4 linked regions of the Homo sapiens genome follow. The protein of the gene in region 4 purifies or fractionates together with the protein of the main gene of each other region. This does not show direct contact. Each region holds a gene or a part of one and is shown on either strand. Other genes may lie near its edges. The genes, in order: POTEE, ITIH3, GALC and CST7.

Region 1 (7,439 bases), on a different chromosome or scaffold from region 4:
CACCAAAAAAAAAAGGCCAACATATTAAAACAAGTAGTTGAGATTCCTAACTTTATGTATTTCACTAAGGACGGGTGAAAACCTTGTAATACATTGATGCTACTCCAAGGATGTATGACAAGGAAACTATAACTGACTACTGCGAAAACTTCCTTTGTCTCCTGGTTTCTTTACAGGGTAAAGAACCTTCCATCAATCCCAGCAAACTATAGGCCACAGGCCAAATCCAATCTGCATTATGGTTTTGTAAATAAAGTTTTATAGGAGCTCAGTCATGCCTGTTTGCTTACATATAATCATGGTGGCTTTCACACTACAACAGCAGACAACAGCAGGGTTAAGTAGATATGACAGAGACCACATAGTCTAAAATATTGCCCAACTGGCCATTTACAGAAAAAGCTTGCTAACCCGTTTTACACCATAACCAGAATGCCTTAATACTCAGATTTAATCTTATGACTCCCCTGCTCAAATTTCTCCAATGAGCCCCTGCAGCACACATTGTTGGCTCCCTATCAATAGCCATTCCTTATTCTTTCTTGAAGAAGAAATCCAAGTCTATTGGGATATTTATTATCCCAATCCCCCTCCTCAGCCTCAGAAACAGAAATGATTATTCTAAGCTAATCAGGTATTTACCTTCCCAGTGCCTGGTTTGGGAATGAGCATGTGGTGTGACCCAGCCAGTGAAATGTTACAGGAAGCCCTTTGCATGCTTCTAAGTTTTCTCCCTGTTTAAAAGACACATGTGAAGAAAAGCAGCCCTTGCGATGTTGTGTTGTGAGAACAAGATGTTTGGAGCTGCTGCGGATTAGCCAACCATGAAGGGAGACGTGAATAAAACACTGTCAACAGCACAGCTGAAAGAGGGAAAAGTGGGATCCTAGGATATCAATGAACAACCAAAACAACTCTGGTTCCTACTGTTTTAGCCACTGTTCATCTAGTATTTGCAGTCCAAAGCATTCTACCCGGTAAATTTCCCATGGCACACAGGATAAGACCTACTCATTTCTATAGTATTAAAAAGTCTATCATAAACTTGCCTTAGCTAAGTATTCACCTCATTCCCAACCTCTCGTATCACACACTTTTGGTACTAGCAAAAGTGAACTGCTCAGAAACCCTGCCATGTTCACTCAAGCATCTTGTCTTTTGCACTTGCTGCTCTTCCTCCCAAACAGGCAATCTCATTAGATGTTCCTTCTGGCAAACACACGACCTCGCTGCATGTTCCTTCTGCCAAACATTCTTCTTCTGCTTCTTTACCTAGAAAAATTCTTCTCTCTCTGCATGCTTACCTTAAATCATACCTACTTTTTCCCAAAACTTTCATTCCTCATCACATATGTCTGGCACATAATCAATATATAATAAATCATAATTATAAGCTTCCAGTGGGCATCTAGCACACAGTAAGCACTGAATAAAGTAGTAAAATAATGAAAATGACAATGATAACAAAAAGCTCCTGTCTGTATTTTTAATTGTTTGTGGTCTATAGCATTAGAAAAATGGTTACTATCTAAAAGACATTTGATAGTTATATGTTAAGTGGACAAGTGAAAACATAAATAGAAATGTTTTCTTTGTAAATTCTGTTGAAAAACCACAGAAATGAAATGGAGACAGCTCTATTATGAGCACCTTAAAGATCAAAACTACATCTATTCCATCTTTGTCTCCTGCAACTTATAAAACCTAACTTACAAAAGCTCTTTGATAAATAGATGGCTAAATTAAAGGTGTCCTCATACAGTTTGGACTATAAATGTATTAGGTGTCCACAACCAGGTAGCATACTAGCGTTTTTGTTAGTGTGAAACGTTTTTCTGCTTTTATTATAATCTGCTGAGCCTAGAGTTGGGCAATTTGTATATTTATTATGACAATCTTTTGGCAAATGGTAGCAGAGCATCTTGTTCTAACAAAATTACTGTTATGATGACAATTAACCAGCAGGTAGAAGAACACATCTTGTTCCAACAAAGTAAATATATCTCTTTCCAACTTCAAATGAGGAGGAATGAAGTCAGTAATAGTGAGACCTTATTGGGACAAGCATATGTAACATGACTTGTGCTTCAGTGTTCTTTTGTGATCAAAAATTCCTTACTTTTACTTTTTTATCTATGGTAGGACCACGCAAAGCAGGGGTCCTCAACTCCCAGGCCACAGACTCATACCAGTCCATGGACTATTATGAACCACACCACACAGGAGGAGGTGAGCAGCAGGCAAGCCAGGGAAGCTTCATCTGTATTTACAGCCACTCCTTATGGCTCATATTACCGCCTGTACTCTGCCTCCAGTCAGATCAGTGATAGCACTAGATACTCATTGGAGCATGAACCCTGTTGTGAACTGCCCATCTGAGGGATCTAGGTTGTGTGCTTCGTATGAGAATCTAATGCCTGATGATCTGTCACTGTCTCACTTTGCCCCCAGATGAGACCATCCAGTTGCAGAAAAATAAGTTCAGAGCTTCCACGGATTCTACATTATGGTAAGTTGTATAATTATTTCATTATATATTACAATGTGATAATAATATAAAGTAGCACAATAAATGTAACATGATTGAATAATCCTGAAACCATCCCCACCCTCCCCCAGCCCATGGAAAAATTGTCTTCCACAAAACCGGTCCCTGGTGTCAAAAAGGTTGGGGACAACTGACTAAAGTAATTCACTATCACAAGTCTTACCTGGATTGCTGTTTTCAGAAGAGATTTTTAGCATCTGTTTTTCTTTGTAGTCAGAAAGTAACTGGCAAATTCTATGTATAAAAATGTAATAAACCAAATTACTATTTTAATACTGATATAAAAAAAACTTACCAAATGTAGAATTATTAAGAGTATTTCAAACAATATCAGAATAACAGAACTTAATAGTATTATCCCATCCACTTATGAATACATTCTACAAACTTCTCTTTAAGCTTCTAATTAAAGAAGAAAAAAATGTAAGGTGAAATAGTCATAAATCGAGGGCACTGTGACCCAGTAAATTAGCTAGCATTAGCATGACATAATAGAAAGTGTCCCAACTCTAAATAAGTCCTAGCTCCATAATGAACAGCTATTTGTTCTTGGACAACTTGCTTCTCTTAGGCTCAATGTCTTCTTCAACAAAGTGAGGACTTTGCTGCCTTATTTCACTAGGTTGTTATAAAGGTTTAACGAGATAACATTTTTTAAATGCTCAGAGAAATAGTAAAGCAATGGAATAATCTGTTCCTAAACTTTATGACTAAAATTATCTTGGAATCCCAAATAAAACCCAATGCATATTTTGTTCATAGGTTCTAATATACAAATGTTGTAGTTTTCAGAAAATGTTATTAAGTCCTAATTTTGCTTCTTAGTTGTCCTACTCTTTATGGCTTATAATTCAGGGCATCTCAACTATGTCATAGTTTGTAACTAAATTTATTCATAAATATCTCATTAAAGTAGATAATGTGATTGTCCACTATTACGGAGTTGATCAATCACACCAAGGGCAGAAAAACCAATGGATGTTAAGACCTGACTTGGACCAACGATCCTTCTCTACAGACTCAAACTCTCAGCCAGTAGATGTCTGTTAGGATAATGCTTTATATTGATGTTCAATTCCAGCTGACATGGGAGACCAAAAGTCTACTTTTATTTTTTTTTAGTTTCCACAGAGAAGTAGCAAGCTGACATTCTGTAATTTTCGACATACATACTAACAATATATTTTGCACCGAACATGTTATTCAGGTCTAAGTCATCTCATAGACCATCTTACATGACTATTTTTGCAGCACAAATCACAATTTCAATATTTGGGTGGCACCCATTTTGCTTTGATTCACACTATTTCCTCAGAGCTAGTCAGCAAATAGTCAAATGACCTTCCAGTGACTGCACAAAATATGGAATGCTTCAAAGATCTGTGCTGCCTCCTTATGCAGAAGCCATGCTAACTTTCCCCGTATTGTTCCAATTTTAGGATATGTGCCGCCGAAGCAAGCACAAAGCCCTACTTTTACACATGATTAGTGATGCGTCATGGACAAGGCTTGGCTCTGTGAAGTCCAACTAACCTACTTGAGATTCTGAGAATTCTCTTCAATGGCTTCCTGTGAGCTAGAGTTTGAAAATATCTTAAAATCTTGAGCTAGAGATGGAAGTAGCTCCGACAATTTTCATTATCATGTAAATCAGATCACTCAAGGGGCCAACCACAGCTGGGAGCCACTGCTCAGGGCAAGGTTCATATGGGACTTTCTACTGGGTTCTATACAGGATATAAAGGTGCCTCACAGTACAGATCTGGTAGCAAAGAGGAAACAAACACTGACCTCTTTCTGCCACATTATTTGAACCCCTCTCACCCTTTAGAACAAGCCCACCTAACATCTGCCAGAGAAAAGACCAACAACAGCCTCAAAGGATCTCTTACCATGAAGGTCTCAGCTAATTCCTGGCTAAGATGTGGGTTCCACATTAGGTTCTGAATATGTGGGGAAGGGTCAATTTGGTCACTTTGTGTGCGGATAAAGTCAAGATGCCCAGCGGCCAGAGCAGGGGGCTGGTGCTCTGGGAACAATGGCTGAGCATATAAGCATAGGTATGGGAATTAAAAAACATCAAAGTCACTGTATGAATCGCCATGAAGACTTGAGGGATCTGAATCTACTGATTCATCTTAAGGCAGCAGGACCAGTTTGAGTGGCCACAAAGCAGCAACAAAATCAACGGAAACAACAGAATGATTGCAATGTCTTTTTTCCTCCTCCTTCTGACTTGATAAAAGGGACTGTCTTCCTTGGATTTAGTGAACTCCTTCGGTTCTTGAAAAATTCAAGGAGTATGTAGGACATAGTCCCCAGAAGACAGTACAAGACTTTCCGCTAAACTAGACATTTCAAGACCCAAATAACTAATCAGAAAAATTAAAGATGTGACACTATTTTTTATCCCTGCATAGGTGTTACACTTGGATCAAATGAACAATGCTGGGATCTCTAAGGATAAAGATCTTAAAAGTCCTGAGATAAAGAATCCCGCACCCATTGGTACTTCTAACTTGTCTTGCTTTTTGTCTGATTTCTGGCTGATGCAGGGGACTAACTCACTGCCACGCGAAAACTACCTGAACCAAACTATGACATCTCACCTGATATGTGAGATGCAACTGTTATAATTATTTTAAACCTCAATTCAGCATTAACTAGCCTTTTAATGTAAACACTTACACATGATGATGACTAGAAACAGCATACTCTCTGGCCGTCTGTCCAGATAGATCTTGAGAAGATACATCAATATTTTGCTCAAGTAGAAGGCTGACTATACTTGCTGATCCACAACATACAGCAAGTATGAGAGCAGTCCTAAAATGACAGAGATAGGAACTGTAATAAAGTTATTTTTAAAGCTAATTTGATATACTTTACCAATGTAACATCTTGCCTGTCTGTGCAGAATCAAACATTTACATGCACTAAAAGACATAAGCATCTTGAGTGCTCAAGTGTTCATCTTTGTAAAATGCCACCAAGGTTAAAAGGAAGGGACCAAAAAAAACCCTCTTATCTCAGTGGGGTATTGCATAGCAGAAGCTACTAATTTAAAGTCCTTTGATGGGCAAGAAACAATGTTAGGGCCACTTATCTGAGGTGGACAAAGATTTAAGTGAAGATTTTGTCACAGCTTCCCTAGACTGACATGCTGTAATAGAAAATCAGCTAGGGGGTAAGAGAAATAAGAGCTCTCTGCATGCTCAAAGCAGTAATAATAATGGTAAGAATAGTAGTCATAGGAGTTTCAGTTAATGGTGCCAATAACCATGTGCTAGGCACTGAATTAAATGCCACATGTATCTTTCTTACTTATGCACAGCCAACTTTGAAGGATATATTCTCCTACTTTTCATATATGACAACATATTTGGTGGTAAATAACGTCCCCAAGGTCACACACCTAGCAAGTAAGAAAGTTACTAATTAAACCCAGTCTTGTGTGAATCCAAAGCCTAGCTCTTTTCTCTTTATCACCCACGTACGGCTTGTCTTCATTAAAGGAAAAGTGTATCCACTTAAAACTATCTTCACTCCCTCTCTCCATACCAATTAAAAATAAAAACATCAAAACACACTGGAAAAACAAAAGGAAAAAAGCTGTTGAACCCACAGTATGTGGGAACAGCAATTAATTGTCATGTAGGGATAAGCTAACACTAATATTCTTCAAAGAAAGCAACTTAAAGCAAAGTCATTAAAAAGACAAAAGGATTTTCAACCCCTATTTATGTTTAATACAGCAGATTTAATGGAAAAGCATGTAAGACACAGGTTAAAAACTATTAGAAAGGGTTAAGAAGTTCAATACTGAGTCATAAAGTAAACTAAAAGTTAAAGTTCAAACTTCATAAAATTAATATGAAATCCTTTAAGCTAACATAAGATCATGTAACCAAAAATGTCACATAACAAATAACATCAGTCAATATAATAAGAGAAGATGAATCCTACTAAAACTGTTCTTTATGTTGCCCAGCCCAAGTAATTGTTTTTCTACCTAACTGATTTGTGTTGATACTGATCACTACATCCCAGTAAGTATACATTAATCTTATTAATTTAATATTTATGACTTGAGTGACTGCTGTCCATCTAGAACACACAGATTAAAAGAAAGAACTATACCTTCCATATCTATCCAGTGCATTTAAATTCGCTTTTTTCTTGATTAAAAATTTCACGACTTGCTGTTTTTGCTCATGTACACCAAGTAACAGTGGTGTGAGGCCATGCTGTAAAACAATATAAAGCAAAAACCTATGTAATTCAAAAAAGTACATATTCCTCAACCAAAGTGGAAACTTTATGTAAGATCTTATGGACTTACACGCATAGAAAGTAAATAAAATGTACTCGCTTCCTTCTCACTCTTCTGTGCTTTCCCACACGCTGCTCCTTCCCTTGGAAACACCCCTTCTCTGCCTCACCACAGTAACTCTAATCATCTCAAAAACTCACTTTAAACATTTACTGCTTCCAAGGCTCTTTGCTTCTAAACCAGCATTTGGCATGGTGTTATTGGATGATAATATTTTTCCCATCTAAACAAAAAGCTTCTTGAGGGCAGGGGCTGTATCTTTTGTCTCTATATCCTCAACCCTAAGACAAATTGTGTATAAAGCAAGAATCTGCATGTAAAATATTTCTTTAGTTTCATGTTTTACCAAAAGTTCAACCTCCAACATGCAACAAAAATTGCTATTAAAACTCATACTGCCCATTTGAAAAAATTTTCCAACATTTATTTATTTAAAATCTATTTGTATTTAATTTTCCCAGATTGTTAACTAAACCATCAGTTCATAGGACTACTGAAACTAAATTAACAGAATTCCTATCTGTATTCTTAATAACTCCATGGTTTTTAGTGTTTAAA
Region 2 (7,732 bases), on a different chromosome or scaffold from region 4:
CTGCCCTGTCCATTTCCCAAGGGGGAACGGGACCAGGCTTTGTAAATGGCTCCTCTGGCAGGTCATTGTCAGCAGCCCCTGCCCTCAGCATCCTCACTCCCAACCCCAGTGGGCAAGGAGGAAGGTGATAGTTGCAGATTGATCCCCAGCCCCACCCCAACACATGCATGCTTGCAGCAGCTAAGCCCTAGGCTGCAGGCTTGTTCTGCTGGAGTCAGTATTCCTGTCCCCTGCCCCACCAGGTCTGAGAGGCATCTACATCACCTTTTTCCCTGAGAAGGACTTGGTGAGGGCGCTTCCCAGGAGGTCGTTGGTGATGAAAGAGGCCTCAGCATCCAGCATGCTGATTCCCTGAGGCTCGAAGATGTCTACCTCGATCTGAAATGGCCAAAGTAAGGAAATGTCACTCAGTGACCTCAGAGGCCAGTTCCCAGAACAAGGCCAATGGGAATGAGATGGGTCTGTGGTGATGCAGGGACCCTCTAGGACAGTGCTGAGGGCCAAGCCTGGTGTCTCCCACTGCGAAAGTGACCACAGGGGCTTGGAGGAGAGTATGCTGATCGGGAGGTGTTACCACCGCCTGCCATATGCGCCCGAAATTCCACCACTGATGCTTTTCCTTTGGCTTTCAGCTTTGAGGTAGGAAAAATGCCCATGTGCCCAGTGAGAAGCCTTACAGAGGCACTTGCTGGTGTTGCTCTTGAGGGCCCAGCACCGAATCTGCATCTGTGGAGTCCATCCCAGCCTCTTCCCCTTGGCCCCAGATGCTTTTGGCCAGAACCATTGAATTCCTCCAGCCTTCCCAGCCAAGGATGGGGGATGCCGTGAGGCAGAACTTTTGTTTTTGACCCCTGTCTGAGACTGCCCCATGGGCGGGTTCCTGCACCCCGCTGCCGTCCCCCCAGGTCTGCAGGGGCGGTTGATTACCTCAAAGTGTTTGACCAGTTGCTTAGGCTGGACCTTGAGGTACATCTCGTACTTGCCCTTGTGCCTCTTCAGCAGCTCCTCGTAGGTTAGCTCGAAGGTGACTTTGCTGCCTGCAGCCACGTTGACCGAGACTGTGAACTTCTCCAACTTCCTCCCAGAGGCCCTGACCAGGGTGCGAGATGGTGACTCCCTCAAAGACTGCAGGAGCCCACCCTTCCTCGGCCCTCGGCCCCAGGCCCAGCCCTTTGGCGAGGGAGATCCCTAACCATTCTGAGCCTCACTTGCCTCAGCCTCAACGTGGGATAATGGCAAAATTATGGGCACATTTTGCTATACCAATAATAATAGCTGTTGTTGTTGTTTGTAGCCCTGAAGGCCCTTGGATCCCAGACATTCTCCCCAAGGCCTGGGAGTCCATACTTACTTGACCAAGCCGGCCGTCTTGCCCTGGGACACAGCCTTTTCATACTGCTTCTTGGCAACTTCCTTCTCCTTGACATTCCCAGGGTAGGTAACACCGTCGATGGTCCTGCAGGGAAAGAGAGTTGGGGGTAGGGAGATCACACTGGGCCAGACCCCCTGTTCCCGAGCCCAGAGCCAGCAGCCATGGTGGTACCCACAAGGTGAAGTTGGTGATGAAGGCCGTCTTGGGCAGCTCCACATCAAAGGAAACCTCCTTGGCCGTGTCTGCACGGTTGACGGCTCTCATGGTGACAACATTGTGAGCAAAACGGGAGGTCACCTTGGAGTTGATTTTGGTACTGTAGACCTCGATGCCATTGGCCACCTTTGGGGAGGTGGGTGGAGAATCAGCCAGACTGGGACACTGGAGAAGCAGGTTTGCAACCCAGCCACCTCCCTTGCAAACCCTTGGAGGCTCTGAGGCCCCTGCCCGGCACGCAACCCTCATCCTCCAGGTCTTCTACACTGGAAGACTTGGTGGCGTCTCCAGTCTCCATGTTCTGGTGGCCACCATTATTCAGATGCTTGTCCTGCCTCCTTAATTCTGCGATCCGTTTACACACCACTGCAGCCAGTGAGAGCTTGCCCTTTCCCGTCCAGTCACCCTGAGCTCCAGCTATGCGTGGGACACTGGCTCTGGAGCATCTGCCCCTGGCTCTTCCTGCTCATCCTCCACACCTCACACTCCCTCAAGCACACAGCCCAGCCCACCTCCTGGGTCTTTAGGTAATTGCCTCATTCTGTCTCCCAAAGAGGAACTGATTTCCTGTGCCAAGGGAAGTCTCCAAACACCCTCTTTCCAATAGGGGTGTTGAATTTTGAGAGGCTCTAGGGAGGTGTTCCAGCCCCCTCCCCCTAGGGATATAAAGATGCTTCGTGAGGGTGTGGCAGGGACCGCTTCACAGAGCCAGGTACCAGCAAGTGCTAAGGAAGTGTCTGCGGAAGGAAGGGATGCCTGTGAGGGGCCCTCTTGGGCTACATCCTGCGAGGTTGGAGGGGTCGTCACTCTGTGGTGCTCTTTCCCAGGAGTCCTGCGCTGTTGGAGGCTGCCAGGGCAGAGGGCCGTAAGCTGTTTGCCAGCTGTGAGGAGTCAGCTGTTATAGCCTACACCTTCAGCAGTTGGGGAACCAGCTCCATCCTGCCCTGCCCCACTCGGTCCCACCCCCTGGTGAAAGTTCTTACCCCTTCCGGGAGGCTCCGTTTCTGAAAAAACAAAAACAAACACAAACACAGGAATCAGGCCAAGGCCAACACCAAGGCCGCATGGCCTGGGAGGCTCTGGGCTGAGACCAGGGGTTCAGTGGTGCCCTGCCCCCCACACACCTGAGTGGCCCCCAGACATAGGACCCTCCAGAGCCACATGTCAGAGTAGGAAAAACTCTGAATAGATGGGGAAACTGAGGTCCAGAGAGGGGCAGGTATCCAGGTTACCAGGAGAGCAGGGCAGGGGGAACTGAACCCAGAGCTCTCTTCACACCCTACATGCCCCACCTCATTCTATCTCCCATTCTGCCTTTCCCTGGCCCCCAGGCCCCTTTAGGCCTCCTTCCAGAGCACCCCTGCCCCCGCCACACCCCGCAGGGCTCAACTGAGCATTTTGTAGAGGTCACACTCGTTTGAGACTTGAACCTTCATTGCCCCTCAGTGAAGTGAGCAGTTCCTGGTGCATTGCTCTTTTGACAGGTGGGGAAGCTGAGGCCCAGGGAGTTTTAAGAGCCTTCCCAGGGTTAGACAACAGGTTAGCATAGGCCTCAGCTGGAGCCCGGTTCTCCCAGTGTCCACACTACTCCCAGCAGCTCAGTGCCCAGCCCTCTGCCTCCTCTTCACTCCACTCAGAGGCCTTGCCCAGCATGATGCCTTCTGCCCATTCCACACCAAGACCCAGATGGCAAAGAGGGGGCAGACTCACCCCAAGCAGCCGAAAGGGGCTTCTCGGGAAGCCAGAGGCTGCCAAGCTGGAGAGCAGAGCCAAGATGAGACAGGGCCACCATGCAAATGCCATCGCTGAATACTCAGGCCTGGCCCACGCTCCTTATATGAGCAAGCCTGGTGTTTTCCAAGCAGGGTCAGTGACCTGCAGCGGGGGTGGGAGGAGTGGAGGCAGGAAGGGCCTCCGGGAAGCTGGGCATGGGTGGAATGACGGGTCCCTCGATGTGTCTGTCTGAAGAAGGCCTGGTGGGTCTTGCCAACAGCGTTGGGGCTTCATTCCTGAGAGACCGGGGGACTCGGAAGAGGCCCGCAGGAAAGCAGAAGCTGTGGGCCAACAAATGGACCCTGGGACTCCCTGGCGTGGATGATGGAGATGGGGTGTGGAGTTGCATTTAGGGCAAAGGGCATCTCAGCATTGTTGCCTCTTATCCCTACCACTGGGACAGCCTCTCTCTGGCCTCCTGGATTGCAGCCCCTCCCTTCTTGAGGCAGCCAGGGCGTGAAACTAGACTGTCACCTTCAGGCTGGGACCTCCACAGCAGAGCCCCTCGCTCACTACCCTTCTATGGCCCCCAAAGCCCCAGGGAAAGGACACACAACGATCCCGGAAGCCCAGCTGTCTCTGTGATCTGACCCCAGCTTGTTTTTCTGAGCTCACTCTCTTGCACCAGCACACCCTCCCCTTCTGCACATGTCACATCTTTCATCTCTCTGCCAGTCCCAGTGCCTCCCCTCCAGGACCCTTCCCTGGCCATCCCCTAGAGGACTATGGGACATCCCTGCTCCAAGCCCCAAGCCCCCTGAGGGCCTGCTTTGTCATGACCTTATGTTGAGGTGGATGTGCTCAGGTCTGCCTGCCCCCTCTGCACCCAGAGCTCCTGGGGGCTGGACCATGTCATGTTTCCCTCTGTGCTTCCAGGGCCCAGCCAGGGACTTGGCTGCCCTCAGCCTTTTGGGGAGTCATTGCCCTAAAAGTCGTAGTGAGGCTGGGCTCCAGCTTCCAGGACAACAGGAGCTTTAGAGGCAGGACCTGGTCTCAGTGGGGGCTGGGACCTCCTGAGCCACCTCAGGACCCTGCCAGCCTAGCCCCATCAGGGCAGCTGTTGCACACCCACCATACCCATGGCTTCTCTGAGCCAAGCTGACCCTGTGACCCTCCCACTGGGCAGCCCACTACTGAATGGAGTCGACAAGGACGGCTGGGTCCAGGACAACTAACTTATGGGGAGTTCAGCGGCCTCAGCTGAAAGCTCTGGTGCTGACTGGGAGATGTGCAGAGAGAGTTGTTGGGAGCAGAGGAACCAAGAAGGCAAAAGGCAGATGCCACGGGGCAGCGGAAGCCCTGAGGAGGGTGTGGTCTAATGGCTGGAAGAGGCAGCAGCCACAGAGCAATGATGGAGAGTTGCCAAATCAGCCAGGCACTATGGCTCTTGCCTGTAATCCCAGCTTTTTGGGAGACTGAAGCTGGAGGATCACCTGGGCCCAGGAGTTCGAGGCTGCAGTGAGCGCTGTGTTCGTGCCACTGCGCTCCAGCCCGGATGACAGGGCGAGACCCCCGTCTCAAAAAAAAAAAAAAAAATTGAAAAGAGGGAGTTTCCAAGCCAGTGAAATGATGGCCAAGTGGCAGATGCTGCCTGTGCTTGGTGTCTGGCTGGGCGGTGCCTGTTTCCCTCGGGCCTCCTGAACCCTTACACCAACCTCACTGGCAGCAGGCACCAAGCTCGGGCCTGATGGAGGCCAAACCCAGCAGGTGCTGGCGCCTGGGTGTGGAGAGAAGACCCCTCAGAGCTGCCGTGTCCTCATTTCCTGGCTTCTGGGATGTTTTCAGTCCTGTGGCTGCTGGCACTGGGTGGCTGGCACTGTTGCCCAATGGCTCCTCCTCACGGACCTGCAGCTGCCTGCAGAGCTTCTCCTGTACTCTCTCATCTGGACCACTGCCTCATCCCCAAGTGCCTGGAGTTTGGGGAGACGGACAACTCGAAATAGGGATTCTGTAGCTGCTCAAGCAGCCTCAAGGGATGGCTGGGGACTTGGAGGAACCAGAGTCGTCATGCAGACTTTATAATTAGACGGAATCTAAGAGATCTTTGGGTTCACCGCCTTTCCATTCTACAGGAGAGGGAGATGAGGCCCCCATTGGGCAGGCCTTGCCAAGGGTGACCCCGACAGCTGGCAGCTCACAGCTCTTCCTGGAGAACCCCAGGATACCTGGGAAGGTGGGCTGGCCGCCCCACAGCCTGCCGCTAGGGGCTCTGTGTTCATAGGGCCTGGGGCAGCCTTTGAGCTCAGCATTGGTGTTATTGATCCAGGCCCTCAAAACCAGTCCTTGTTCTGTCTGGTCCCTTGTGAGCCTCATTTATAGTGGAAACTGGACAGAAACTAGCAAGAAAAAGCAGAAAGCCTCTGGAAAGCAGTGGGTGGAGGCCTGTGCGCATTCACACACAGAGCTCTCTGACGTGTGGCTCACCTCCCTGCACCTGTGACATTGTGTTTTGACTGGGCCCCAAGGTCAAGCCAAGGGAGGGGACCCTGATGGGGTAATTCCAGGCATTCACATGAGGAGATGGTAGGGTGCCACTCCTGGCCCCCTGAAATCACAGCTTCTGGGCAGGGACCATCTCTGCCTTTGGAAAATACCAGCCTGGCTGCCAGACGTTACAAACCCTCAGCAGGGAAATGGTGTGAGCTTTCTTCCCAGCCTCTGACCTGCTTCTCCTCTCCCTGGGTCTGTTGTAACCCCTTAGTCCATCTGAGGGGCAGCATCTTGGGCTGCCTCCCTGCCATCCTCCCTCCCCAAAATCAGCCAGCTCAGGGTGGACACGGCCTCTCTTTAATGGAAGGCATGAGGTGCTTTGACACAAGGAACCAGCTTAGTCAAGGAGGTACAGCCTCAGCAGCAGGTCAGGATGTCGTCCTCCTCCTCTGCCTTGGCCCCGGGGGAGGACAGGCGTGCTGGCCAGAGGGCTCAGAAGATGTCGGGGACGATATAATCAGTGTAGGCACCATCGATGAGTCCAGCCCCATTGTTGTGAATGAACCAGCAGGACACCTCGGCCCCATGCCACGGGTCCTTGCTGTAGTCTTTTTGCAAACCCCTGTGCAGAGACAAGTCAGCTGGGGTCACCCTTCGGACCAGTAGGGCAGCACCTCCCCAGGAAGCTCACCCCACCCATGTGACACCTGGAGGAAGACCTGGAAGAACTACAAAGTGGCCGAGGGCAGACGTGCTGGGCAAGCAGCCCACCCACCTGGTGACCGTGAGCCGGCGGTTCCTCACCACCATCGTGGCATCTGGCTTTGTGGGGTCAGAGCCTGGGTGGATGTCAGACACTTCAAAACCGATGGGGTGGAAAAATTGCCCTAGAAAGGCACATTGGAGACAGCGGTTACCATCTCGGGGACTTGCTCCTGCCCTGCACTCAGCAGGTGCTCACTGCGGGGTTAGAGCATTGCTGGACCGCTTTTTTTCCAGGGCTTGACTGTTTCTGCTAACAGTCCCAGCATGAAAAGCTACCTTTGGTTCACTTGCTATAGAGAAGTAGATACATTTCTAGGTGGTCCTACCTCCTGTCTTTTAAAACGGGATCTGTCTGGGGAGAGAGGTTTGAGGGCAGGTGCCCATAGAGAGCAGTGTCTGTAGAAAGGCCACACAGGAGCAGTGTGGTCAGTGACCCACCCTACTCACAAGGTTCCTGGGAACCCTCTGGGCCTTTCTTTTTGCGATCAGACCTCTGCCCCTCACTTGCTCCCAGGCTCGCTTAAGCGTTTGTTTCACTGTGTGTTTGCTCACAGCCTCACCAACACAGCCCCTCAGACGGCTCTGCTCCTTGGAGGCCACACTGGAGGTGGGCCTGTCCTGGTGCCCAGCTATAGAACTGACCGGTGGCCCCAGGTCCCACATGTCCTCTGGCTTCAACACCCTTCCCCACAGCCCTGCCAGCCTGGCCAGCCGTACCCAGCAGCCCGTGCGTCCGGGCTGACATCCGATGACTGTCCAGCACATAGAAGCCCAGGAAGTCCTGGTGGACCGAGCTCCCCTTCCACACTCGGTGCAAAACAACCTCAAAGGTGCCACCGTCGTCCACAGACACCACCAGGTTCCTCTTCTTGTTGATGGTCACCACCACCCTGCAGAGCCAGGTGGCCGAGAGGGCAGGTGCGGCTGCACTGCATCCCTCTCCATTCAGCTGCCCTTGTCATCTGGGACCCAACCCTTATGACCACGCCCCCACCCCATGGCCTTCATCCCCAGATGGCCGGCTGTTACCTGTTCCACGCCCCTCCCCACATGTTGCTTGGGGCCCTTGCAATGTGCCAGGTCCTGTGCTAAGCCCTCTGTGCAAACTGCATCATTCAATCCTCACTCCGAGCCTGTGAAGTCCCAGGCTCAGAGAGGTTAAGTAACTTGCCCAAG
Region 3 (7,439 bases), on a different chromosome or scaffold from region 4:
AAGAGTTTATCAATGAACCTCCTCATCATAGCATTTGTTATCATGAGTCTAAACAAGATGTGAATCACCCATTACTTGTGACTGTACCATAAGAGAAAGCTATTAGACCAAACCTACATTTAGTCTCACTACAGGTTATAAATGTCCTGACATTTAAGAAAGTTCTCCGGCCAGGCGTGGTGGCTCATTCCTGTAATCCCAGCACTTTGGGAGGCCGAGGCGGGCGGATCACGAGGTCAGGAGTTTGAGACCAGCCTGGCCAACATAGTGAAACCCCGTCTCTAATAAAAAGAAAAAAAAACTAGCTGGGTGTGGTGGCGGGTGCCTGTAATCCCAGCTACTTGAGGCAGGAGAATCACTTGAACCCAGGAGGCAGAGGTTGCAGTGAGCCAAGATCACAACACTGCACTCCAATCCGGGTGACAGTGTAAAAAAAAAAGGAAAGTTCTCAAATATAAACTAATTTTTCAGTCATAATTTGGAAAAGGATAGCAAAAACTAGTATATTCTTTCTTCTGACTTCCTCCAGCCCTTGGCTCATCCTCATGCCCTGTATCATCATGTAGTATTACAGTTTATATGTTCCAGCATCTACTTCTCTTACTGAACACAAGAGCTTATTAATCTTAGTAGCCCTCAAATATTACAGTCACAGTTCCTGCAACACAGTAGGAACTCAATAATTGTTTGCTGATAATCTAAGTCATGATTGCATGAAAATGTTTAAGTATTAGTTTTAACTGATGGTATATTAATAAGCAAATGATTATGGAGACCCACTATGTGTGTGTTAAGGCCCTGTGGGGTACGATGCAGCCTGGGGCATGCCTCCACCCAGCCAAGAGACAAGCTGGACATGATATCATTTTTCATACTTTTCAAATCCTTAAAAGGTGTTAACTAACAGTTTGTGACAGGTGAACGCAGATTTCAGCCAGCCTGCCAAATCTGGCCCATCATCTGTAATTTTACAACTTGAGAGCTAAAAGTGTTTTTAGTTTTAAATAGTTACATTTTAAATGGCTATATATTTACCTCAAGATCCTCAATATTGCCTTTTGGCCCACAAACCCAAAACTATTTATGCTCTGGCCCTTTAATAAAAAGTTTGCCAATCTTTGGCTTAAGACAACAAGAGGATAAAATGAGACTAACCCCCCATAAGCTGTATAGGAAACACAACACTGTTGTAGGAACCAGAGAAAGCAGGGAAAGCTTTGAAGGAGAATTTGAGTTGGGTTGATACAAAAAAAAAAAAAAAAAACCCAGCTCAGAGGAAGGAGGTATACACTCAACACAGTTTTCAAAAGTGGGAACACTGGGATGGGCAAAGGGGAGCAATTAAAGGTCACAGGTACTTAGTTTGTGTTATTATCAGACACCATTAGAACAAATTAGCCTCATGGCATAAAATGGTTAGTCAAAAAGTACCACAGAATCAAATTATTTTCTAAATTACAAACAAATGTCCAAAACTGAATCATATTTTAAATATATTACTAACTCCAATATAATCAATGTCCAAATCATGGTAACGCTTGGCGCCCACAATCCAGGTCACGACATAATAGGCAGTCAGCTGAAGATTGACATAAGGCCAGTCGAAACCTTTTCCCAGCCATCCAGGGAATGACCATGGCAACCCTGCAGAGAGAAGGGAGGAGGCAAAGGTAGAGGAGGTATAACGGTGCTGGCGCTATTGAAAATAAAACAAATTTTTTTTAAGAAAAGCATTCAACTAGCAAAAAACCAATACAGATCTGACTAAAGGAAAGTTTATATACCATATAAAAATTATTGAAATCCTTTCCAATCTATAGACACTATAATTCCTTATTGATCCCTAGAGTCAGGTCCCATAATTTCAAATGTTCTTTCCAAGAAGAAGAAAAATAACAAATACAAACACCTCTCTCCAAGACCCTTACCAATAGAAAGAAATGTACCATATGTTTTAACTTAACATGTCCACTCACTGTTGGAATGTTCAATATTCAACTTCTGTTCTTTGAGGTCAAATCAAAGAATTCTAAAAGGCTTATGCCAAACTACTCTTGAGTTATGTATAACACAAATTTATCATTCAATTGTACATCTTCTTACAATTTAGGGTCCTTAAAATATTAATCAGTCAGGCAATCTAATTTAGCAAAACTAGTTTGTTCTTATATCACTATAAATGACAATGACTCCATAGAGAAATATACCCTTGTTAAGTGATACACATCAAATAAGTCCATATTCTTCCAATAATCCTGATTATGTTTAAGTAAAAAAATAAGAAGAGTAGAAAAGTACTTATTATAATTCTAAATTTAACTTGCTACTAATATATTAAAATAGGCTCAATAGTTAAGTTCCTCAGCAATAAATATATTACCAAACTAGTTCACCACTGAAAAAAATAAAAATCAAAATGACAAAATGCTTATTTTCTAAACTCAGGAGGAACACCCAAGTGTATTACATAAGAAATGTGACATTAAAGTAATAGAATTCTTGAAAACAATGAAATGCTAAATGCAATCTGAAGGCCTACCAAGTCTTTGTTAGGACATGGTTTAGCATGCCATATTTTCTACATTTAAATGAGGTCTGACCTTGGAAGCAGTCTAGTGGATATGTGCTGAATTCAGTGATGCTTTTACTGCTCACAGCATTTCTGGAATCTCTTACAAAAGCCCATTTATAAAGAACATACTTACTCCTAATTTCTTTTAACTTAGAAAATATTACTTTTCATTAACCTGATTGTTGAGAAAATTATTTTTTAAATAACTAGAAATCAGGTCTTTAAAATGAATCATTAATTTCATTTAACTTAGTTTGAATTTAAGCCTGTTTCAAAAAATCAAATTCATTTCAAATGATGAAAGTATCCCATCACTCTTGATGTTTGAAATACTTCACAAGCTCTGTACACATTCTCACAGAACTGTGAAATGTACATAGTCCCATTTAAGCAACTAGCCAATGATCCTCCCAATAGAACCTAAGCCCCACAGGTGCAGGAATTGGGGACGGGATTGGCTTCCTGAGTCCCAGAACAGTAACCAGCACATTATTGAAGTTCAAAAACTAACTAATAAACAAAAAACACTTTTGTATGTACCTTTTCTAAAAATAGGGTTCACTACTACATGCAATATACAATTTTGTAACTAGTTAGGTGTACTACTGCATGTAATATACATTTTTGTGAACAGTGTTACCCTTTTATAAATACTGATGACAGATCTTGTGAAGGAAAGTAGTTTAGCATCATAGGAAACATGGAATTAGGTGCTAACACCGATTTTGCCATTTACTAACTGTCTATGACCTTAGGTCAGTGGCATAATCTTCCTAAGCTTCTACTGCTTCTTCCTGGAAAATGGAAAGAGTCATGCCTTACTCCACAGGTATTATAAGGATTCAACATAATATACAAGGGCAAAGAAAGGATCACCCCTGGCACATGCTTTGCTGCTGGTAGCATACTGGTAGCATTAATGACATTATGAGTACTTCCGTATTAATAGAGATTCCACCAACACGATTCAGAATTTAAAAGTTAAAGGAAAAGAGACTGAAGAAACATTGCAAACTTCATTTCTTACCAATGAGTGTAATATTGGGATTCCTCTTCTTAGCTTCTTTCATCAACCACCACTCGTATCCTCGGAAATAATTCTCATCTAGTGCATAATGCATGTGGGAGGGCTCAGTGCCGTCTGAATAGAGGAGAGCAAAAACGGAAGTAATGATCCATGAATGGTACTTCCTAGGACCATCTCACTCCCCACCCCCACCCCAGACACACACTTCACAAAAGCAGTATTCCAGTTCTAATCCTGAAGTTGGGGAAATCATAATCTTACACAACTAAAGGATGGATGATAAAAGCATATCATTTCATCCTTTTTTTATTATCTTAAGCATTGTAAAAGTCTTAATAAAACCACAACCTTCTATTACAAGCAGTACTGAGAGAAATGTTATCACCTCATATAACTAAAAATTCCCAGTATTCATGCTTCTGGGCTTTTGATCTCTCTGTAGTTTTCAAATCCCCATGTCCAACTTTAAGTTCTGATTACCTCAACTTTCAGCTTTTCAACGCTGGATATGAATCCCTGGACTCGTGAGCCCTGTTCTCAGAACCCACACCTTTAGCCTATAATATGTCTTGATATAGGAAGAGTTTTGAGGAAAAAAAAAGGAATGAGTATACATATCCACTCTAAAAATAACAAAATTCTATACTAACATCTGCAGTTAGTAGAGGTTACATTGTCTTAGCACTGAGGTAGGTAATTGCTATCAAAGTCCTCGTATATTCCCACAGTTCACCAACATCTGCCCTTGCTAAGTAGGGCCTTCCGAGAGGCCCTTGCCCATTTCTTCTTAAAGGTAAACATCAGAATTCACAAGAACTGCCTGTTTATGTACCTCTACCTCTAATTTAGCTTCAGCAAGTGAAATTAGTCCATCATTGTCAATTCTGCCTAAAAGGTTTTAACAGTAAAACGCAATAGCTTGAAGAAAGTTTCTGTTATGGGGGTTTCTTTTGTTTTTGCTTTGCACTTTTTCTTCAACATAAACACTAATACCACCACATAGACATATCTGTTCAACAAAGAGTTACTTCCAAATCACTAGCAGGAATACAAGTAATACTCTAGAGTTCATTATAATGGAATCTGTTCTGTAAATAATAAGCTATATCTAATCATAGAGAGAATTTCTTTTCTTCTTCCTGGAAACAAAAGGCCTATAAACTGCCAGTTGATAACATGGACTACATAAAGCCAATCAAAATAGTGACAATGAAGACTGAAGATTTAGTGATTAAAGATAAGTTTTGTTTTTAAAAGAAAAAAAAGCTGTATCATTTTTACCACATATTTTAAGTTAATAACACTTTTTTTGTTCTATACGAAATTAAAATCTTTCTAACTGCTCAATAAAATTCAAAACTGTCCCTATGCTCTGTCCTGTATATATAGGTTTTAGAAAACTGTGGATTTGTTTACTACCGATTACTTCAACTAAATAAGCAATTTGAAGTTTGAATATTGTTTTTGATGGACCAGTCATATTCTATATAATATTTTTAAATAATTACAGTTAAAAAATGAGGAAAACTCTAATAAGCAACAATCAATCTCAAAAGTGTTGGTATTGTTTACACATATTCTGAAATCACAGTCCATATGCTGAGGTATAGATTAAAATGTTGATGGGAGAAATCCTATCTCCCAAATTCTCCTACCTGTTGTCTGCCCATCACCACCTATTTCCACTTTTAAAATATGCAAAGAGGCACCAAAATTCGGCTGTGAAAAGAAGTAACAGTATTAACATAGTGTTGTATTGTATGAAGCTTCAAGACAATTACTAATTACTGCCTTAGGTTTTACAGACGCAAAAACAAAAGCAAAACTTCAAATAGCAATTTATTCCAAAAGTAATGTGCCATTTTTTCAAAAACTAGAATTGTGAGGCTAATAAATTCTATGGTGAAATTCACCATCCAATTTCTAAAATATCACAGGTACCATGAAATAATTATGTTTTCATTACCTTAAAGAGATAATCCAATATCTGAGAACGATAGGGCTCTGGGTAATTTACTAGAAGTCGGGAGGTTGCCTAAAAAAAAAAGTTTTCAAAAGTATGAATAAAAGAAATCCAGTCATGAATATCTGTCTACAGTGTTCACGCACACCACCTGGTATACACATATTTAGCCTCAGGCAAGGTCAGGCTGAGGAAAAGTTCCTCACAAGTTGTCTGTCTGCCCTTTCTGTGCCAATCATTGGGCAAGTAGGGCTGCTGTCTGTCCGACAGCTAAAAAAGTTCTCTTCTTCTGGCATGAGGGCTAACTGGGAGGTAAGCTTGCTAACCTCATGATCACAAACTTATCTTGAAACTCAGGTTTTCTATCTTGAGACCACTTGACAACAATATCTCAGGACTAAAATGGGAGGGATGAATGTCAGGTAATTTTTCCCCTTAACATCTTCCGGAAAAACATCACAAGCAGCAATGCTGAAAGGAAGCACTACTTTCCCCATCCTCATAAATTCTACCTGTTACTATTAAGAATAACTAGCAATAATCTCCAGACCAGGCTGTACTAAGAAAACTTAACACAAGAGTGGCATCAGAATGCATGGAAAGACAAGGGTAGACAGCGCAGGGACCAATACTGGATCATGCCTGGACCACGGCATACAACTATTTGAAAAAAGAAATCACAAAACCAGTAACTGACCCATAATCTATCCTTTGGGAGGCAATATAAGCAAAAAATAAATAAAAAGAGGCCGGTTTTTGGCATGAAACAGTAGCCTCAGGCTTGTAAACCAGACAGTCCTAGGTTCAAACTGCTGACACTTTGCCAGGTGTATGTATGATGGTTGGGACAAAATACTTTTATGGGGTTCAACTTTCTATTTTATATTCTCATATATGCTACCACTGACATTCTGGTAAGTGCCCATATCTACTCTGTCACACCCAAAACATCCCCAGTCCCTACCAGTGAGGCAAACACCCATGGAGCTGCTCTCTAGCCACTCTTTCCATCTACCTCAATATATCCCAAACCAAACATAGCACTTTTGCATGTATCTGCTCCTTTTCCTGAACTTGCTGTCTCAGTAACCAACACTTGCCGAAACCATAAACTTGGGCCACCTTTTGTCCAAACTTCCCATGTACCCTCAGTCACCAAGATATCCTCAATAGCTCTCAAATCCCTCCTCTACTCTTCAACCCCACTGACTTACCCAGGCCCTCCTCACTTATGAGAACAGTATAAGTGGTCTCAGGACATCCCTTCTGCCTCTCCCTGTATTCTATCTTCCATGCTACTTACGAGAGTAACCTTCCCAAAATACAAATGTAATCACGAAACTCTTCCATGTAAACATGCTAAGACCGTCCCTTTCCCAAAAGCTTTCAGGATAAAGTTCAAATCGCTCAATTTTGCACCCAAATCCCTTAATTATTTGGCTCCTAACCCTGATACTTTATCCCTTATCACTCTCACACCTTCTACCTAGATGTATCAAACAACGTTTTCTATTCTTATGCCTGGAATGCACCCCACATCCTCTCTTGGACAACTCCAATTCACCTTTCAGCTCAAATTCCACCTCTGGAATTTGAAGGAAGGATGCCTTCTGGCCCTGCTCACTGATTTGATGTAAGCGCCTCTCCTTTGGCACCAGGTCCATATCTTTATTACAACACTTTGAACCCCGGCACTCCTTTATTTTTCTGACTCACCTCTTAGTTCCTTAAGGACATGGACTGTATCTTATTCAAGTTTGTATCCTCATTCTTTGTTATTCAATAAACACTTATTAAATATTTTATGGGTCTTTTGTTGCACTGGTACTGGCAACATAAATAGGAGTCTTTGAGTCAAATGGAGTTTGTATCCTGAT
Region 4 (8,174 bases):
TGAGAGGGGCCCCATCGGCCCCCATCACCCAGAGCATAAGGTCTGCATGGCTGTGCCTGAGCACTGGGGTGTTGGGGGGGTGCAAGTCCAGCTTAGAGGTGCTGGTGTTCACTCTGCCCACCTGGAGACGCTTCACCCCAAGCCCTCTCACATGACACCATCAAAATTCAGAGAGCCTGGGTCCTTGGGGCCACACCTGCCCGCTGTGCTCTTGGGTCTCTGCCTGATGGCTAATGGCGGAGTCTATCTTTTGAGGGCACACACATGCCCCTGGCACAGACAGGACACTGAGCTCTACCAGATCAGTCCCGACCTTAACCCACTGGGACACACCCGGAGTTTGAATTCCAGCTCTGCTTCTCACTGGCTGTATGATCTCAGGCAAGCTGCCTAACCTCTCTGAGCCTCCGTGTCCTCACCTGTAAAATGAGGATGCTGACGACAGTGAGAATATATGAGGCAACATACACGAAGCACTTGTCAATAAATGATGTGCAAAACTGTAATCATTATCAATATATCAAAATGCACATGGCCACAGCAGGGGTCTCAGGGCAAATGAATGCCCCCATTGGGAAAAACAAATCTTGCCACGTAGACGGTGGCTCAGCCTGCGGCAGCTCCCAGTGCTCCCCAGGAGGCAGGAGGTCCCCGGGCTGCAAGTGGTCTCTCTGCTACTGGGAAGTAAGGACTGACATCACCTTGCAGAGGGAAGCTGAAATGGCTCCCTGACCCCAGGGCCCCTGTCCAGGCAGATGGGCCGTTGCAGCTAGAGTGGAGGGGGCAGAGGATGACATGGCACCTGGCAGAGCTTCCCAGAAGAGATGCCCATCAGATTGAGAAAGAAACAGCCCTTTTCAAAAGGGTGGCGGAAGCCAGTGTGGCAATTTCCTAGGTTCTGAAAGCCTCAGGGAGGAGAGGTGCCCTGAGGGGCTCAGCGCTATGGTCTGTGCAGTTCAGTGCATGGGTGTGGAGAGAGGCCAGATGCTCAGACGGCACCACCCTTGGGGTCCCTGTTGCTTCCCCGCCCCCTACCCCCCTCAGTCATGAGGAAGGCTCTGTAATTTATTCTCAGAGGAGGCAGCGGAGGGGCTGTAGGAGTTGTGGAGTGGGGGCAGGACGCATGCTTGTGTCTGGGGCCCAGGTTCCCATCTCTTTTTTGCTGCTAGACTGGGGGCCTCCCAGCACCCTCCCTATACAGCCGAAGACTGAAGGCCCTTGCTGGAAGCACCAGAAATGATCACAGCGCCTGGGCAGGGTGCTGGGGGCTGTCACCAGCACAGTGGCAGAAGGGCCTGCACTAGACAGAGCAGGGGGCTGAGGCTGGCGGAGAGCACCCCATGCCCCATGTGCCTCCATGCCTGTGCCTTCCCCGAGCCACCTCTGTTCAGCCTCCCCAGGGCCGGAGACGGGGTGCAGTTATCTTCCCATTTCATGGATGGTAGGACTGAGGCTGAGGGCCCGCTCTGTGTGTGTGAACGTGGGCTCTGGAGCTTCTCTCTGGGGTTTGGTGGCTGACAGCAGGTCTGCTGAGAATGGAGGGAAAGGCTTGGTGCAGCATTACATACCAGCGAGGGGCCGGGAACACCACCCAGGAAAATGACGTTGCCAGCTGCCCAGCACATCGGCTCCCACGCCACCCTGTTATAGTCCCTAGCCTGCTCCGTGAGATGAGCAGAGCTCTGAAACCCCTCAGCAGTCAGTAGGTTTAATTAGATCCCAGGACACGCTAGGACAGCTGGCTCCATGTCCCCTCCAGGAGAGCCTTTTCTGAGGTGTGAGAACGAGCCACTTCTCTGGAGTGAACTTGCCTCTCTTCCCTGCTTCCCCCTTGGACCTTGGAGACACGAAGGGGCAGGGCACAGAATGGCAGCAGGCAGGCAGCACTGCATCAGGACAGGGCCAGGAGGAGAGGCCCCTGTGAGGCTGGGAAGCAGGTGGAGGGCTCCTTGCGTGAGCTAAGAAGGCTCCCAAGCTGGGAGGCAGGGCCGGGTATGCTGTCCCCAGCCTTCTGCCAGCCATGGGTCAGCTCCATGTTCGCTGAGCACTACCCAGAGCTGGTGGCGGTGGCATGTTCCCATCAGTGAGAGCAGAAGCTGCCCCCGGCCCCTCCTCCAGCCTGCCGTGTCCCCTTGGCTGCTCAGTCGCAGCGTCCGCCCTAGGCCAGGCCTGGGAGCTCGACACAGTGTCCCCCAGCATCACTGAGTCCTCAGTATCCTGACTCACCAGGAGGAGGTGAGAACCCTCCAAGAACCCCTTGGGTGCTCTGGAGCCATCCTCTTGTCAGTGGTCCTGCTGCACAGCCCCCACCTGGGCCCCTTTGGCCAGGCTCCAGCCCCCTTCTGTCCCTGTCTGCTGGGTGGGGGTCATATGACTTGAGCGGGTCACCTCAGCCCTCTGGTGCCAGCTTCCTGGTTGGTTAAATGAGGTGGGGGCCTCCCAAGTCCCCATCAGTATCCTGGTCTGATTCCTGTGCCAGGGAGGCCATGGCCCAGTTCCCTTTGGGGGAGAGCAGGTTGTCCCTGGCTGTGTGACTTGGGCAAATCACCTAGCCTGGCTGTGTCTCAGTTTCCCAGTGCACAGGCAGTGGCTCTTTCCTCCCTGTCCCCCCTCCCCCTGAGTGCTGACCCTCAGGGAGTGGATTTCAGGAAGGGTGAAAGAGTCTGATCGTTAGGGTCCCTGGAGCCAAGTCACAGGACAACAGCCAGCAGGAAGGAATGACAAGCCATCAGATAGAAGCGGCTAACCACAGGCATGTGGCTGCCCTGTCGCCTCCGTCCCGCAGAGGAGCTGCGGGAGACCTGCCTTACTTAGACCTTTCTCAGACCTCTGTGAAGAGCCAGAGAATAGAAGATGCTTCCCTTGCCCCTAGCCTTCTGGGGCAGCCCCCAAACCCTTCATCCCTGTAGCCTGCTACCCCCAAAGGTAGCTGCAGCCAGATGGAGCCCCTTGCCCCTCTCACCACTCCCAGCACCTCTCACCACCGCATGGTCCTGTGGGGGCTCCAAGCTAGGAAAGTGCCCTGGGGAAGACCCAAGGCACCAGTGGCCAATCTCAGGGAGAGACCCCCGGGGAGCGGACAGGGGAGAACGCCACTTACCTGGGGAAGGGCCCCCAGTGGTGCTCAAGACCAGGCAGCAGAAGGCCAGCAGAGTTCCAGCCGCTCGCATGGCTGCCCGGGTAGGGACAGTGCGGGGCAGTTGGGGGTGGCCGTGCAGTGCCTTCTCAGGCAGCATGGGGCAGTTGGAGGCAGTGGTTGGTGCCCGTGCCGAGCCTTCTTGGGTAGATGGCGCAGGGCAGGTGGGGGCAGTGGTCTGTGCCCGTGCCAATCCTTCTCAGGCAGCACGGGCCAGTGCCGGGCAATGGTTTGTGCCTGTGCTGAGCCTTCTTGGGCAGCATGGAACAGTGGGCTGTCCCAGCCCAGGGGCAGGTGCCAGGGCCACAGCATGGAACCCCACCCTGCAAACCACTGTGGGATGGGGCAGGGGCGGGGCTAGGGGGCTGCCTGCGTGGTGCTGGGGAGGGGAGTGTTTTGCTGCTGAATCATTTTGGCCAGAAGCTCTTCACCTTCAGATCTATCAGCCACAAAGCAACCGCTTCCTTTATAAAAGTTTCCGAGCAGCCGTCATTTGCTGGGGGAGGAGGAAGAGACATGAGACCCATGAGCAAATCCTGATGCAATGTTCTACCCCTGAGCCACACACGAAAGAGATGTTGCATGAAAAACATTAGCAGGAATTTTCAAAAGCAAAATCACTTGATTTTCCTTTTTCTTTTAATTACTTAAGTTCTGGGGTACATGTGCAGAACATGCAGGTTTGTTACATAGGTATACACGTGCCATGGTGGTTTGCTGCACCCATCAACCCATCATCTACATTAGGTATTTCTCCAAATGCTATCCCTCCCCTGGCCCCGGATCCCCAGATAGTCCTTGGTGTGTGATGTTCCCCTCCCTGTGTCCATGTGTTCTCATTGTTCAACTCCCACCTATGAATGAGAACATGCGGTGTTTGGTTTTCTGTTCTTGTGTTAGTTTGCTGAGAATGATGGTTTCCAGCTTCATCCATGTCCCTGCAAAGGACATGAACTCATCTTTTTTATGGCTGCATAGTATTCCATGGTGTATATGTGCCACATTTTCTTTATCCAGTCTACCATTGATGGGCATTTGGGTTGGTTCCAAGTCTTTGCTATTGTGACTAGTGCTGCAGTAAACATACGTGTGCATGTGTCTTTATAGTAGAATGATTTTTGAGTATATACCCAGTAATGAAATTGCTGGGTCAAATGGTATTTCTGGTTCTAGATCCTTGAGGAATCACCACACTGTCTTCCACAATGGTTGAACTAATTTACACTCCCACCAACAGTGTAAAAGCGTTCCTATTTCTCCACATCCTCTCCAGCATCTGTTGCTTCCTGACTTTTTAACGATCACCATTCTAACTGGCATGAGATGGTACCTCATTGTGGTTTTGATTTGCATTTCTCTAATGACCAGTGATGATGAGCGTTTTTTCATATGTTTCTTGGCTGCATAAATGTCTTCTTTTTAGTGTCTGTTCATATCCTTCACCCAATTTTTGATGGGGTTGTTTTTTTCTTGTCAATTGTTTAAGTTCCTTGTAGATTCTCGACATTAGCTCTTTGTCAAATGGATATATTGCAAAAATTTTCTCCCATTCTGTAGGTTGCCTGTTCACTCTGATGACAGTTTCTTTTGCTGTGTGGAAGTTCATTAGTTTAATTAGGTCCCATTTATCAATTTTGGCTTTTGTTGCTATTCCTTTTGGTGTTTTAGTCATGAAGTCTTTGCCCATGCCTATGTCCTGAATGGTACTGCCTAGGTTTTCTTCTAGGGTTTTTATGGTTTTAGGTCTTAAGTCCTTAATCCATGTTGAGTTAATTTTTGTATAAGGTGTAAGGAAGGGGTCCAGTTTCAGTTTTCTGCAAATGGCTAGCCAGTTTTCCCAACACCATTTATTAAATAGGGAATCCTTTCCCCATTGGTTGTTTTAGTCAGGTTTGTCAAAGATCAGGTGGTTGTTGATGTGTGGTGTTATTTCTGGGCTTCTGTTCTGTTCCATTGGTCTATATATCTGTTTTGGTACCAGTACCATGCTGTTTTGGTTACTGTAGGCTTGTAGTATGGTTTGAAGTCAGATAGCATGATGCCTCCAGCTTTGTTCTTTTTGCTTAGGATTGTCTTGGCTATGCAGGCTCTTTTTTGGTTCCCTATGAACTTTAAAGTAGTTTTTTCCAATTCTGTGAAGAAAGTCAATGATAGCTTGATGGGGGATATCACTGAATCTATAAATTACTTTGGGCAGTATGGCCATTTTCACAACATTGATTCTTCCTATCCATGAGCATGGAATGTTTTTCCATTTATTTGTATCCTCTCTTATTTCCTTGAACAGTGGTTTGTAGTTCTCCTTGAAGAGGTCCTTCACATCCCTTGTAAGTTGTATTCCTAGGTATTTTATTCTCTTTGTAGCAATTGTGAATGGGAGTTCACTTATAATTTCACTCTCTGTTTGTCTATTATTGGTGTATAGGAATGTTTGTGATTTTTGCACATTGATTTTGTATCCTGAGACTTTGCTGAAGTTGCTTATCAGCTTGTGGAGATTTTGGGCTGAGATGATGGGGTTTTCTAAATATACAGTCATGTCATCTGCAAACAGAGACAATTTGACTCCCTCTTTTCCTATTTGAATACTCTTTATTTCCTTCTCCTGCCTAATTGCCCTGGCCAGAACTTCCAACACTATGTTGAATAGGAGTGGTGAGAGAGGGCATCCTAGTCTTGTGCCAGTTTTCAAAGGGAATGCTTCAAGTTTTTGTCCATTCAGTATGATATTGGCTGTGGGTTTGTCATAAATAGCTCTTATTATTTTAAGATACAGTTCATCAAAACCTACTTTATTCAGAGTTTTTAGCATGAAGGGGTGTTGAATTTTGTTGAAGGCCTTTTCTGCATCTATTAAGATAATCATGTGGTTTTTCTCATTGGTTCTGTTTATATGCTGGATTACGTTTATTGATTTGCATATGTTGAACCAGCCTTGCATTCCAGGTATGAAGCTGACTTGATCATGGTGGATAAGTTTTGATGTGCTGCTGGATTCAGTTTGCCATATTTTATTGAGGATTTTCACATTGATGGGACATCAGGGATATTGGCCTGAAATTTTCTTTTTGTTGTGTTTCTGCCAGGTTTTGGTATTAGGATGATGCTGGCCTCATAAAATGAGTTAGGGAGGATTCCCTCTTTTTCTCTTGTTTGGAATAGTTTCAGAAGGAATGGTAGCAGCGCCTCTTTGTACCTCTGGTAGAATTCAGCTGTGAATCCATCTGGTCCTGGACTTTTTTTTGGTTGGTAGGCTATTAATTACTGCCTCAATTTCAGAACTTGTTATTGATCGATTCAGGGATTCGACTTCTTCCTGGTTTAGACTTGGGAGGGTGTGTGTGTCCAGGAATTTACCCATTTCTTCTAGATTTTCTAGTTTATTAGTTTAGAGGCATTTACAGTATTCTCTGATGGTAGTTTGTATTTCTATGGGATCACTGGTGATATCCCCTTTATCATTTTTTATTGCATCTATTTGATTCTTCTCTCTTTTCTTCTTTATTAGTCTTGCTAGTGGTCTATCTATTTTGTTGATCTCTTCAAAACACCAGCTCCTTGATTCATTGATTTTTTGAAAGGTTTTTCATGTCTCTATCACTTTCAGTTCTGCTCTGATCTTAGTTATTTCTTGTCTTCTGCTAGCTTTTGAATTTGTTTGCTCATGCTTCTTTAGTTCTTTTACTTGTGATGTTAGGGTGTCAATTTTAGATCTTTCCTGCTTTCTCTTGTGGGCATTTAGTGCTATAAATTTCCCTCTACACACTGCTATAAATGTGTCCTAGAGATTCTGGTACATTGTGTCTTTGTTCTGATTGGTTTCAGAGAACATCTTTATTTCTGCCTTAATTTCATTATGTACGCAGTAGTCATTCAGGAGCAGGTTGTTCAGTTTCCATGTAGTTGTTCAGGTTTGAGTGAGTTTCTTAATCCTGAGTTCTAATTTGATTGCACTGTGGTCTGAGAGACTGTTTGTTATGACTTCCATTCTTTAGTATTTGCTGAGGAGTGTTTTACTTCCAATTATGTGGTCAATTTTAGAATAAGTGCAATGAGATGCTGAGAAGAATGTATATTCTGTTGATTTGGGGTGGAGAGTTCTGTAGATGTCTATTAGGTCTGCATGGTCCAGAGCTTAGTTCAAATCCTGAATATCCTTATTAATTTTCTGTCTCATTGTTATAATATTGACAGGGTGTTAAAATCTCCCATTATTATTGTGTGGGAGTGTAGGTCTCTTTGTAGGTCTCTAAGAACTTGCTTTATGAATGTAGGTGCTTCTGTATTGGGTGCATGTATATTTAGGATAGTTAGTTCTTCTTGTTGAATTAATACCTTTACCATTATGTAATACCCTTCTTTGTCGTTTTTGATCTTTGTTGGTTTGAAGTCTGTTTTATCAGAGACTAGGATTGCAACCCTTGCTTTGTTTTTGGTTTCCATTTGCTTGGTAAATATTCCTCCATGTATTTATTTTGAGCCTATTTGTGTCTTCGCATGTGAGATGGGTCTCCTGAACACAGCACACCAATGAGTCTTGACTCCATTCAATTTGCCAGTCTGTGTCTTTTAATTGGGGCATTTAGCCCATTTACATTTATGGTTAATATTATTATTATGATTTTGATCTTGTCATTATGATGCTAGCTGGTTATTTTGCCCATGAGTTGATGCAGTTTCTTCATCGTGTCAATGGTCTTTACAATTTGATATGTTTTTGCAGTGGCTGGTACCAGCTGTTCCTTTCCATGTTTAGTGCTTCCTTCAGGAGCTCTTGTAAGGCAGGCCTGGTGGTGACAAAATCTCCCAGCATTTGCTTGTCTGTAAAGGATTTTATTTCTCCTTCACTTATGAAGCTTAGTTTGGCTGGATATGCAATTCTGGGTTGAAAATTCTTTTCTTTAAGAATGTTGAATATTGGCCCCCACTGTCTTCTGGCTTGTAGGGTTTCTGCAGAGAGATCTGCTGTTAGTCTGATGGGTTTTCCTTTGTGGGTAACCCAACCTTTCTCTCTGGCTGCCCTTAACATTTTTCCTTC

What was found.
Region 1: the proteins of CST7 (region 4) and POTEE purify together in Homo sapiens (affinity purification with mass spectrometry; 2 studies listed by BioGRID and IntAct, with this or other methods). This does not show direct contact.
Region 2: the proteins of CST7 (region 4) and ITIH3 purify together in Homo sapiens (affinity purification with mass spectrometry; 2 studies listed by BioGRID and IntAct, with this or other methods). This does not show direct contact.
Region 3: the proteins of CST7 (region 4) and GALC purify together in Homo sapiens (affinity purification with mass spectrometry; 2 studies listed by BioGRID and IntAct, with this or other methods). This does not show direct contact.

What each region holds. Positions count from the first base shown.
Region 1 is NC_000002.12:131,226,179-131,233,617, reverse strand, and holds part of POTEE (POTE ankyrin domain family member E), read right to left. Parts: intron 6,796-7,439; coding exon 6,689-6,795; intron 5,375-6,688; coding exon 5,237-5,374; intron 2,783-5,236; coding exon 2,712-2,782; intron 1-2,711.
Region 2 is NC_000003.12:52,790,463-52,798,194, reverse strand, and holds the start of ITIH3 (inter-alpha-trypsin inhibitor heavy chain H3 isoform 4 preproprotein), read right to left. Parts: upstream 3,400-7,732; 5' UTR 3,392-3,399; coding exon 3,299-3,391; intron 2,593-3,298; coding exon 2,572-2,592; intron 1,715-2,571; coding exon 1,548-1,714; intron 1,457-1,547; coding exon 1,352-1,456; intron 1,091-1,351; coding exon 928-1,090; intron 379-927; coding exon 265-378; intron 1-264. Other genes in the region: ITIH1 (inter-alpha-trypsin inhibitor heavy chain H1 isoform a preproprotein), read right to left, coding at 6,284-6,413, 6,567-6,678, 7,274-7,446. UniProt on the Homo sapiens protein: May act as a carrier of hyaluronan in serum or as a binding protein between hyaluronan and other matrix protein, including those on cell surfaces in tissues to regulate the localization, synthesis and degradation of hyaluronan which are essential to cells undergoing biological processes.
Region 3 is NC_000014.9:87,982,890-87,990,328, forward strand, and holds part of GALC (galactocerebrosidase isoform a precursor), read right to left. Parts: intron 5,635-7,439; coding exon 5,566-5,634; intron 5,319-5,565; coding exon 5,255-5,318; intron 4,184-5,254; exon of another isoform or gene 4,080-4,183; intron 3,714-4,079; coding exon 3,600-3,713; intron 1,645-3,599; coding exon 1,505-1,644; intron 1-1,504. UniProt on the Homo sapiens protein: Hydrolyzes the galactose ester bonds of glycolipids such as galactosylceramide and galactosylsphingosine.
Region 4 is NC_000020.11:24,944,502-24,952,675, reverse strand, and holds the start of CST7 (cystatin-F precursor), read right to left. Parts: upstream 3,408-8,174; 5' UTR 3,171-3,407; coding exon 3,101-3,170; intron 1-3,100. UniProt on the Homo sapiens protein: Inhibits papain and cathepsin L but with affinities lower than other cystatins. May play a role in immune regulation through inhibition of a unique target in the hematopoietic system.